Linked DNA regions of Homo sapiens: region 2 is linked to region 1. The links come from fine-mapping of genetic effects on gene expression. A gene starts in region 1. The other region holds a variant in brackets. All regions are shown on one strand. Distances are between the middles of the regions.

What was found. PIP is the estimated chance that this variant, and not a neighbour inherited with it, causes the effect.
Region 2: its variant is fine-mapped to the expression of DHX33 in anterior cingulate cortex (GTEx, PIP 0.96).

Annotation. Positions count from the first base shown.
Region 1 is chr17:5,467,008-5,471,278 of GRCh38, forward strand. It overlaps DHX33 (DEAH-box helicase 33), which reads right to left and starts at 1,975. Exons shown (of 12, transcript NM_020162.4): 1 at 1,564-1,975. The coding sequence starts at 1,852. It overlaps DHX33-DT (DHX33 divergent transcript), which reads left to right and starts at 2,085. Exons shown (of 3, transcript NR_135644.1): 1 at 2,085-2,132; 2 at 2,907-2,987; 3 at 3,085-3,353. DERL2 (derlin 2) reads right to left here. Exons shown (of 7, transcript NM_016041.5): 7 at 4,247-4,271. RefSeq lists enhancers at 1,027-1,609, 1,399-1,618, 1,999-2,068.
Region 2 is chr17:5,446,396-5,450,666 of GRCh38, forward strand. DHX33 (DEAH-box helicase 33) reads right to left here. Exons shown (of 12, transcript NM_020162.4): 10 at 3,808-4,011; 11 at 2,414-2,500. Among named protein-coding and RNA genes, the nearest start is that of C1QBP, 9.4 kb to the left of the region's middle. The variant A/G (reference allele first, on the strand shown) is at 2,076.

The DNA of each region.
Region 1 (4,271 bases):
TTGAGGGGGCCAGGTGCGGTGGCTCACGCCTCTTTCTATATCAACCAATCGGGCCTAGTAAAAAGCGCTGCTAAAAAACGTAAAGAAAAGGCTAAAAAGCTAAGGGAGTACCAAAACCACCAAATGGACTCTTGGTTTGAAAACAAAATCATAGCATGGGTCATCCCATTCCTGGGCCCTCTCCTAATAATATGCCTGGAACTAATGTTCTTACCCTGCCTAATTAATCTTTTTCAAAGATTTTTAACTGACAGGATCATGGCAATTTCACAAACAACTACCCAAAAACATCTACAGACGGCATTGCTCCTAGTCAACCCGAGACCAGGAAACTCTCCATCCCCTCGTTGCAGGAAGTAGCCAGAAAGAACATGCCGTCCCTCCTCCTTTTTATAACTATAGGGTCTGGATTGACAAAGCAGGAACATCACCATCTTGGACAAGCCCCTCATTCAAAAGTTCACCTTAATAAAAAACCGCCTAAATCCAAAAGGTATCAGCCTAATGGCTAAGGTCAGCACGACCATAAACCACAAATAACATCTCCAGCCAGAAACATTCCAAACTCCTCCCCGACCAGAGACATGTTAAGGGATAACCCCACTCTGGCCGGGAATATGCCAGCCGGGAATATGCCAGCCGGGAGATAAACCCCCTCGGGCCGGAAAAATGTCTGCCCCAAGATAACATCCCCTGCTCCCAAAGAGTCCAACCCTGCCAAAAACTTCTCCACACATATAAACATTCCAAGCTTGTGATAAGCCCCCTCACCCTAACACCAATATATACTCTTAGTCTGTAAGAGAAAGGGCTCCTGACCGAAATCGGCCAGGAGCGCCTCTCAGGTTTTAACTAAAGAAAAGCTGTCTTTAACTGCCAGCCGCGTTTCGTGTTTCTTTCCTTTTTCTTTAACTCTTACAAATAGCTCACATCCAAATCCAGTGGGCATCACATCCAAGTCCAGTATAACCGGACTTGACTGCTGCATCTGCTCACTCTCTATTCCTTTGACTAGCAGCACTCATGGGTCTCCTTCCTCTCTTTGGCTGCTCATCCTTTCCGTCCTTCAGTATCTCCTCTAACACGTTGGGGATCATAAGCCCCATGAAATCAGTCCCTGCCCCACAACTCTGCCTCTTTTCATGCACCAGAAACTACACCTTCCCTTTCGACCGGAATGTGTTCAGGTTCCCATCTCTCAAACGGGCTTTCCCCCCTGCCTAGAATGCCCTCCCTCCCACACGACCTCCCCAGCCGCCTCCTCACAAACCGGGTCAGATCCACTCTTCTAAGATCCGCAAGCCCCCGGTACGTTTCTCTACCCTTTTACGCGGAAGGTGAGTCTTTGCCTACACACGTTGGTCACTCTCACCGGGCTGTCCAGCGCCTCCAGGGCAGGGCTGCCGGACTCTTCTTCGAGGCCCCTCTCCAGGTCTGGCCCAGAAAAGGTATTCAGGTTTGTTGAAGCCACGAACGAAAGGGATTGAGAGGCATGTAAGAAAAACTGCTCTAGCTAAGCCACGGACGAAGTGCAAGGAAGAGCCCGCCGGCGCGGCCACTCACCGATGAGGACCGCGTTGTCCAGGTTTCGGAGCTGGGCCAACAGTTGCCCCCGCGCTTGGAAGATGGGCAGACTCCGGCGCTGCAGCTCCACAGCTTCAGGGTAGGGACTGGCCGAGGGCTGGGCCAGGGGCGGCTGCTGCCTCCGGCCTCCTCCTCCTCCTCTGCCGCCGCTGCCCGCAGTCAGCAGCATCACCACTTGCCTCCCGGGAGGGAAGGACCCAGCGCGGCTCGGAGGTCCAGAGCCTGGCCGGAATCTCTTGGCCGGCGGGAAGCCCGCCTCCTCCGGCATGTCGGGAGGGCACCGCGGCGGGAGGCGCAAGCGCCGAGAGCTCCTGCCCCCTCTCAGGTGCAGACAACAGGAGCACACCGCCCCTTCCTCGCCGCCACGTGCTGGCGGCTCCCGGCGACCACCGATGACCTCACGGCCGCCCCAGTCTTTAGAAAAAGGGACTGCATCTCCCAGCATGCCTTGGGGGCTTGGGAAGGCTTTCACTTCCTGGGGGTGGGAAAAGCAGGGCCTGAGGTACAACCAGGAAAAGGCCCGGAGCTACAACCGGGAAACACAGGATGTAAGGTTCCGTGGGACTGTAGTCTTGGTTAACGAGGTTTTTCTCATTGTTTTATTTTTTTTTTTTGAGATGGAGTTTCGCTCTTGTTGCCCAGGCTGGAGTGCAATGGCGCGATCTCGGCTCACACTGCAACCTCCGCCTCCTGGGTTCAAGCGATTCTCCTGCCTCAGCCTCCCAAGTAGCTGGGGTTACAGGCGTGCGCCACCGGGGCCCGTCTAATTTTGTATTTTTAGTAGAGACAGGGTTTCTCCATGTTGGTCAGGCTGGTCTTGAACTCCCGACCTCAGGTGATCCGCCTGCCTCGGCCTCCCAAAGTGCTGGGATTATAGGCGTGAGCCACCGCGCCCCGCCCATTGTTTTGTTCTAGTAGCATTACTTCTTTTCAGTAAACCCGCGTTTTCCCCTTCTCTGTCCAAATAACAGTCACTCTTCAAGGAAAGTACTTAATTCTGTAAAATCAATGAGAAGCGCAAACGTGCATTGTCTAATCCTCTAAACAACTTATAAGTTATGTGGTATATACTGGTTATTAGATTATCTCTAATTTACAGATTAAGAAATTGAGTCATCTTAGTCATTCAGATGTCCCCAAATCATAATTTTGTGATCATCTTGTGTTACAGAAAGGAAAACCAATTCTGATATACATGAATTTAACTCAGAAAATGACTCCTCCAACGGATGTGGTCGCCTCCAGTAATACAAGCAGAGAAAGGAGGGAGTTCAATGAAATTAAAATTGTCTTTTATCTTTCCTTTCCCCCAACCATTCCAGCCAGACTCTCAAGTTCTCTACATGGCTGTGCAACCCCATCACAGACACTTCAGTGAAGATTCAGAACTGCAGCAGAAAAAAGTAGGATTATAACTAGTTCTTCCTTACCCTCCTAAAAGTTCTTAGATGATTTGCTAATTTACCACGGAGAATGCCAAGTAGCTGTTTGCTCTTACAGGAAATGTGATTTCCAGAGAATACACCGTAAGCTTCAGCTCATGTGAAGGGTATCTTCTGAAGCTCGTTTCCATGAAACTCGCCCTGTTAAATATCTCCCTTCCCGTGATTCGTGAGAGAGCTAGTCTAAAAACAAAAAACCTCCCCTTTGCTCCAGGTCGGAGATAATTTTCCTCTAGTTGCTGACAGTTTGGTGACCAGGCATTACTGAAAATGTGCACGTTGAACCAGCAGCAGATTTGTGTTTAAGAATAAACTGACAAATTTTCACTTCCTACCCTGAAATATTTAGAAAGGCAACCCAAAACTACAAGGGATAATAAATGTTAACTCTCAAATTATGGACTTTGAGTAAAGACATCCCAGTCCTTTTTCCCAGTGTGCTTTCCAGAGTAACTTAAGGTAGGAGTCCGATGTTCCAAATGATTACAATAATTTAGGTAATGTAAATGGGTGGACTTATTTCTTGATGGAGCACATTCCACCTCTACATGCAGCCCCTAATCATTTCTAGGCAATGGCTGTCATGTAGACCTATTATTGCCAGATCTTCCAATTTTCTCAAGAAAAGCCAAAAGTGAAGATTTTTATCTGTCAATGTTAAATACAGGTTTAAACTTAAAAAAAAAAAAAGTACTGTCAAAACAAAGCACATAGGTAGGTAACAAATCTGTAGGTAACTCATCCATAATCTCTGGCCTAATGATCCAGCTATTCTATAGCCTCAAAGCTAAGAGGACCAAAGAGTGGAAAAATTAAGTCCTATATATGCATCAAGCCATGCTGCTCACATTTCTCCCATTGGTAGACTGAAATCTGCTGTTTCTCCTGAAGAAGTCTCTTGGGGTTCACCAGCTTTCATATGTAGATACTGACAAGCTAATAACTATTCAGAGAATATCCTGGTTCTTCCTTCAAACGACGAAGTGTCAGACACATTTCATTTTTAACTTGTCTGGGATGGTCTGTGGACTTAACTGGTCTGATCACGACCATAACAGCTGGTGGTCACCTTTGCTTTTCCGACCACCAAATTACTGCCCTTGATCATGTTCAGTTTCCCTCTATCCCACTTTCAGAGACAACCACAAGCTTCAGCAACTAGGCTCAAGCTTGCATGCATACACTTTAATCCCTCTATAATTAAAAATACCAGATAATACTTTGCTGATCAATAAACAAAGGTAT
Region 2 (4,271 bases), 21 kb before region 1:
ACTGGCTGAGTGATTTGGGGCAAATTATTTAACCTGATTAGGCTTAGTTTCATCATTTGTAAAATGGGAATAACAAAAGAATCAATCTTATAGGTTGAAATGAGGATTTTATCCTTTGGGTTAAGGTCTGAGTTGAAAAAGAAAAAAAAAGAAATGAGGAGTTTAAATAAGGCAGCCACATAAAAAGTACTCAGAACAGTGCTGAACAAACACTTCATGAATGATAGTGATTATTTTAATTTGATGGCCTCCTGGCATGAGTGTATGTACGTCAGGTCACCATCTAGATTATTACTTAGTTACTGAGTAGGCATGTCTGTAAAGTCTCAGGACCTTACCAGTGCCTGACATATAATGAGAGGTATCCCTGGCCACTACAGGGTCCTAAATTCACAACTAATAGAGAAGCACCGTTTCTACTGTCAATGATAAATTGAGAAAACTTATGAAGCCAAGAGACAGACTGGCAGGAAACTGTTCAAATACAAAAGCAGTTTAAAAAAATGTGTGAAAGACAGAATACAATAGGCTACTATGAGAAGAAACAGCTCTAGTGCCAACCGTAGGCCGTTGGCATCAGACACAGGCCTGGGTACAGGCTGTGACTGTCTCCCAGCAGCGTCCGCACTGAGGGGGCACAAGACATTCACCACAGAGTACTCAGGACAGCAGCAAACACACGGACACTGTCTCAGTGATCAACAGCAAAAGAACACTTCCGCTACCCTCTATCTCTGACATAAAATGTGGAGTGTCATGCGAGCATTAAATATACCATGACAGCTCTTTAAAACACCATGTACTCTAAGAGGGAATAAAAAGCTAATATAAAACTTTGTGGGCCGGGCACAGTGGCTCACACCTGGAACCCCAGCACTTTGGGAGGCCAAGGCCAGTGGATCGCCTGAGGTCAGGAGTTCGAGACCAGCCTGGCCAACATAGTGAAACCCCGTCTCTACTAAAAATACAAAAAATTAGGCCGGGCGTGGTGGCTCACGCCTGTAATCCCAGCACTTTGGGAGGCCAAAACCATCCTGGCTAACATGGTGAAACCTCGTCTCTACTAAAAATACAAAATATTAGCCGGGTGTGGTGGGTCATGCCTGTAGTCCCAGCTACTCGGGAGGCTGAGGCAGGAGAATTGCTTGAACACGGGAGGCAGAGGTTGTGGTGAGCCAAGATCGCGCCACTGCACTCCAGCCTGGGCAACAAGAGCAAAACTCCGTCTCAAAAAAAAAGAAAGGAAAAAAAACACTTTGCGGTGGACACTTTGGCAATATCTAACAAAATCCAAATTCCCCCATCTAGAAATTCATTCTGTGTGCACCACAGCACATACGGAGGATGGTCACTACAACAGAATCTAAATGACCATTATTAGAGGCTTAAATAAACTGCACTGAATACAATGAAATGCTATGAAATCACTAAAATGAATGAGCTAGACACATGCAGCACTGAAAGCCCAGCCACAGGAAGGATTTGAGAAATACGCATGTGAGGCCAGGCACAGTGGCTCACACCTGGAATCCCAGCACTTCGGGAGGCCGAGGCGGGCAAATCACCTGAGGTCAGGAGTTCGAGACCAGTCTGGCCAACGTGGTGAAACCCCGTCTCTACTAAAAATACAAAAATTAGCCAGGCGTGGTGACGCACGCCTGTAATCCCAGCTACTCGGGAGGCTGAGGCAGGAGAATCACCTGAACTCGGGAGGCAGAGGTTGCAGTGAGCGGAGGCTGTGGTGAGCCAAGATGGTACCACTGCACTCCAGCCTGGGTGACAGAGCAAGACTCTGTCTCAAATAATAAACAAGAAAGAAAGAAAGAAAGAAATATGCCATGTGGAAGAAAGGAAGTTGTGGAACATGTACCTCATATGCACGTATCCGTTATGTGTGTGCTCACACACAGGCACAGAGACATGCACAAAAACATACATACACAGAAACAAATTCTAGAAGGAGCTACCCCAAACTGTTAACAGTAGTTATCTCTGGAGGGGCAGGATTATGGGAGACTTTTAAACTTTCTACATTATAAATCACTATTTTCTGCATTGTGTCAAATACTATACAC[A/G]ACTTTGGTAATCTAAAAGGAAATAATGCAGATATTCATACTTAAAAAAAATCTTATGAAGAATTCTAACACTGGAAAATGCTTATAAAGATTATAAAACCAAATATAAATTATACATATAATTTACTATGTAAAAAAATACAATAAAAACTAGGCTATTAGGAAATAGGCTAAACTACTGAATTGTGGAATTGTGGGTAACTTCCTTTTTTCTTATTTGTGAAATTTGCTACAATGAGAAATCCTTTTATAATCACTAGCAATAAGCAACTTCAAAATTTCTACCTTGAACAAAGTGACAGCTTTGTCACCCACAGAACACTAGGACCAGACGATACCTTTAAGCAGATGTCCCTCAGCTGTGCTCTGACTTCTGCTACCAGCGTCATATTCTTGCTGTTGACAAAATTCTCTTTGCACCAATCCTGAATAGGAGAAAGAGTGATATCACAATCCACTCATTCACCATTTATATGTTCACAGAGACGGGGTCTTGCTCTGTTCCCTAGGCTGGAGTGCAGTGATACAATCATAGCTCACTGCAAACCAATCCTCCCACCTCAGCCTCCCAGATAGCTTGAACTATCTGCACATGCCACCATGCCCAGCTAACAATCCTCTCATCTCTATAGAGAAAATATAACAACATTTTTAGAACACAGTTGAATTCAGAGAAAAAACTTCAGGTGCCAAAAAGAAACGTAGGAAAATATCTTTATATCAAAAAACATGAACTATAAGAAAAGTGTTAATAATTTAAACTAAAGAAAAACTTGAAGTTTCCCAGATTGGGATATTTGTCTCATCATACCCAATAAATGATTAGAATCTCTAGAATTGATTTTAAAAGTTCTACAAGTCATTAAGAAAAAGACCAACGACCCAGTAGAAAAATGGACAAAGGATATGAACAGACACAGAAAACAAAACAGAAATGCCCAGTCAATTTATGTAAGACTTCTTTCTTTTTTCTTTTTTTGGAGATAGATAGAGTCTCGCTCTGTCACCTAGGCTGGAGTGCAGTGGCACGATCTCGGCTCACTGCAACCTCTGCCTCCCAGGTTCAAATGATTCTCATGCCTCAGCCTCCCGAGTAGCTGGGATTACAGGTATGCACAACCACGCCCGGCTAATTCTTGTATTTTTAGTAGAGACGGGGTTTTGCCATGTTGGCCAGGCTGGTCTGGAAGTCCTGGGCTCAAGTGATCCACCTGCCCTGGCTTCCCAAAGTGCTGGGATTACAAGCTTGAGACACTGTGCCTGGCCCTGGGCAAGTTTTTCAACTGCACGAAGCTTCGTTTCCATGACTACATGTTTCATGAATATAAAAAATAATAATTATAGTGCTCATTTCTTAGGATTACTTTACTGAATAAATGAGATCTTACATTAAGAAGTGCTTAGCATGGGGCTTGGCACAGAGTAAGTACTCATTCATTGGTACGCACTATCATTATTAGACATATTACTTAATCAAGTTCCAATTAAGTTTTGATGGGTTGGGAGTCACTTAAGTCTTGTTGACTTAAACACATTCGGAACAGAGACCAGAATGACACTGCTTCGGTACTGAAGCATTTCTGAAATGCTGTCTGGCTTTCTTTTTGTGATTCTTTAGATAATTTAGCCAAAAAGGGAAAGCGTACTTTTTGCACGGCTTCAGTAGAAAAAGGGAAGCACATAGCAGAGACAAGCAGCTATCGCTGGAGAACAGGTGCAAGACAAGGCTCACCTTATTTCCGCCTAGGTTTTTGAAGGTCCGATAGATATTGAGCAGGGTCATGTGATCCCCCTCGCTGGATATGAACTTCTTGCGGACCCCTTGCACTTCCTCTCGCCGGGAAGGAGGGTTGTGGAGGACGCTGTCCACAGACAGCAGGGAGACAATGGTCAGGATCTCCTCTGTACAGTGGAATTTGGGGGACATGAGGATGGTCTGCAAAGCAAAATTTAAAATTGTGTAAACCCAGCTTTCTCCTAGCTTTAGAATGCACTATTTCTGTACATTGCTTTTGCAGTTTCCCTTCTAAGGAGTTAAAGGGCAGGTATTTCTAAAACCATGGCGATGTACATTAGTGTTATTTCACTCTTTAATATTCAATAAAACAGGTGACTGCCTTCCCTACAGAGTTCCAAATTTCTTGTGGGTAGGGGCTCTTAACTTCATCTCTTTGAATCCCACACTGAACATGAATC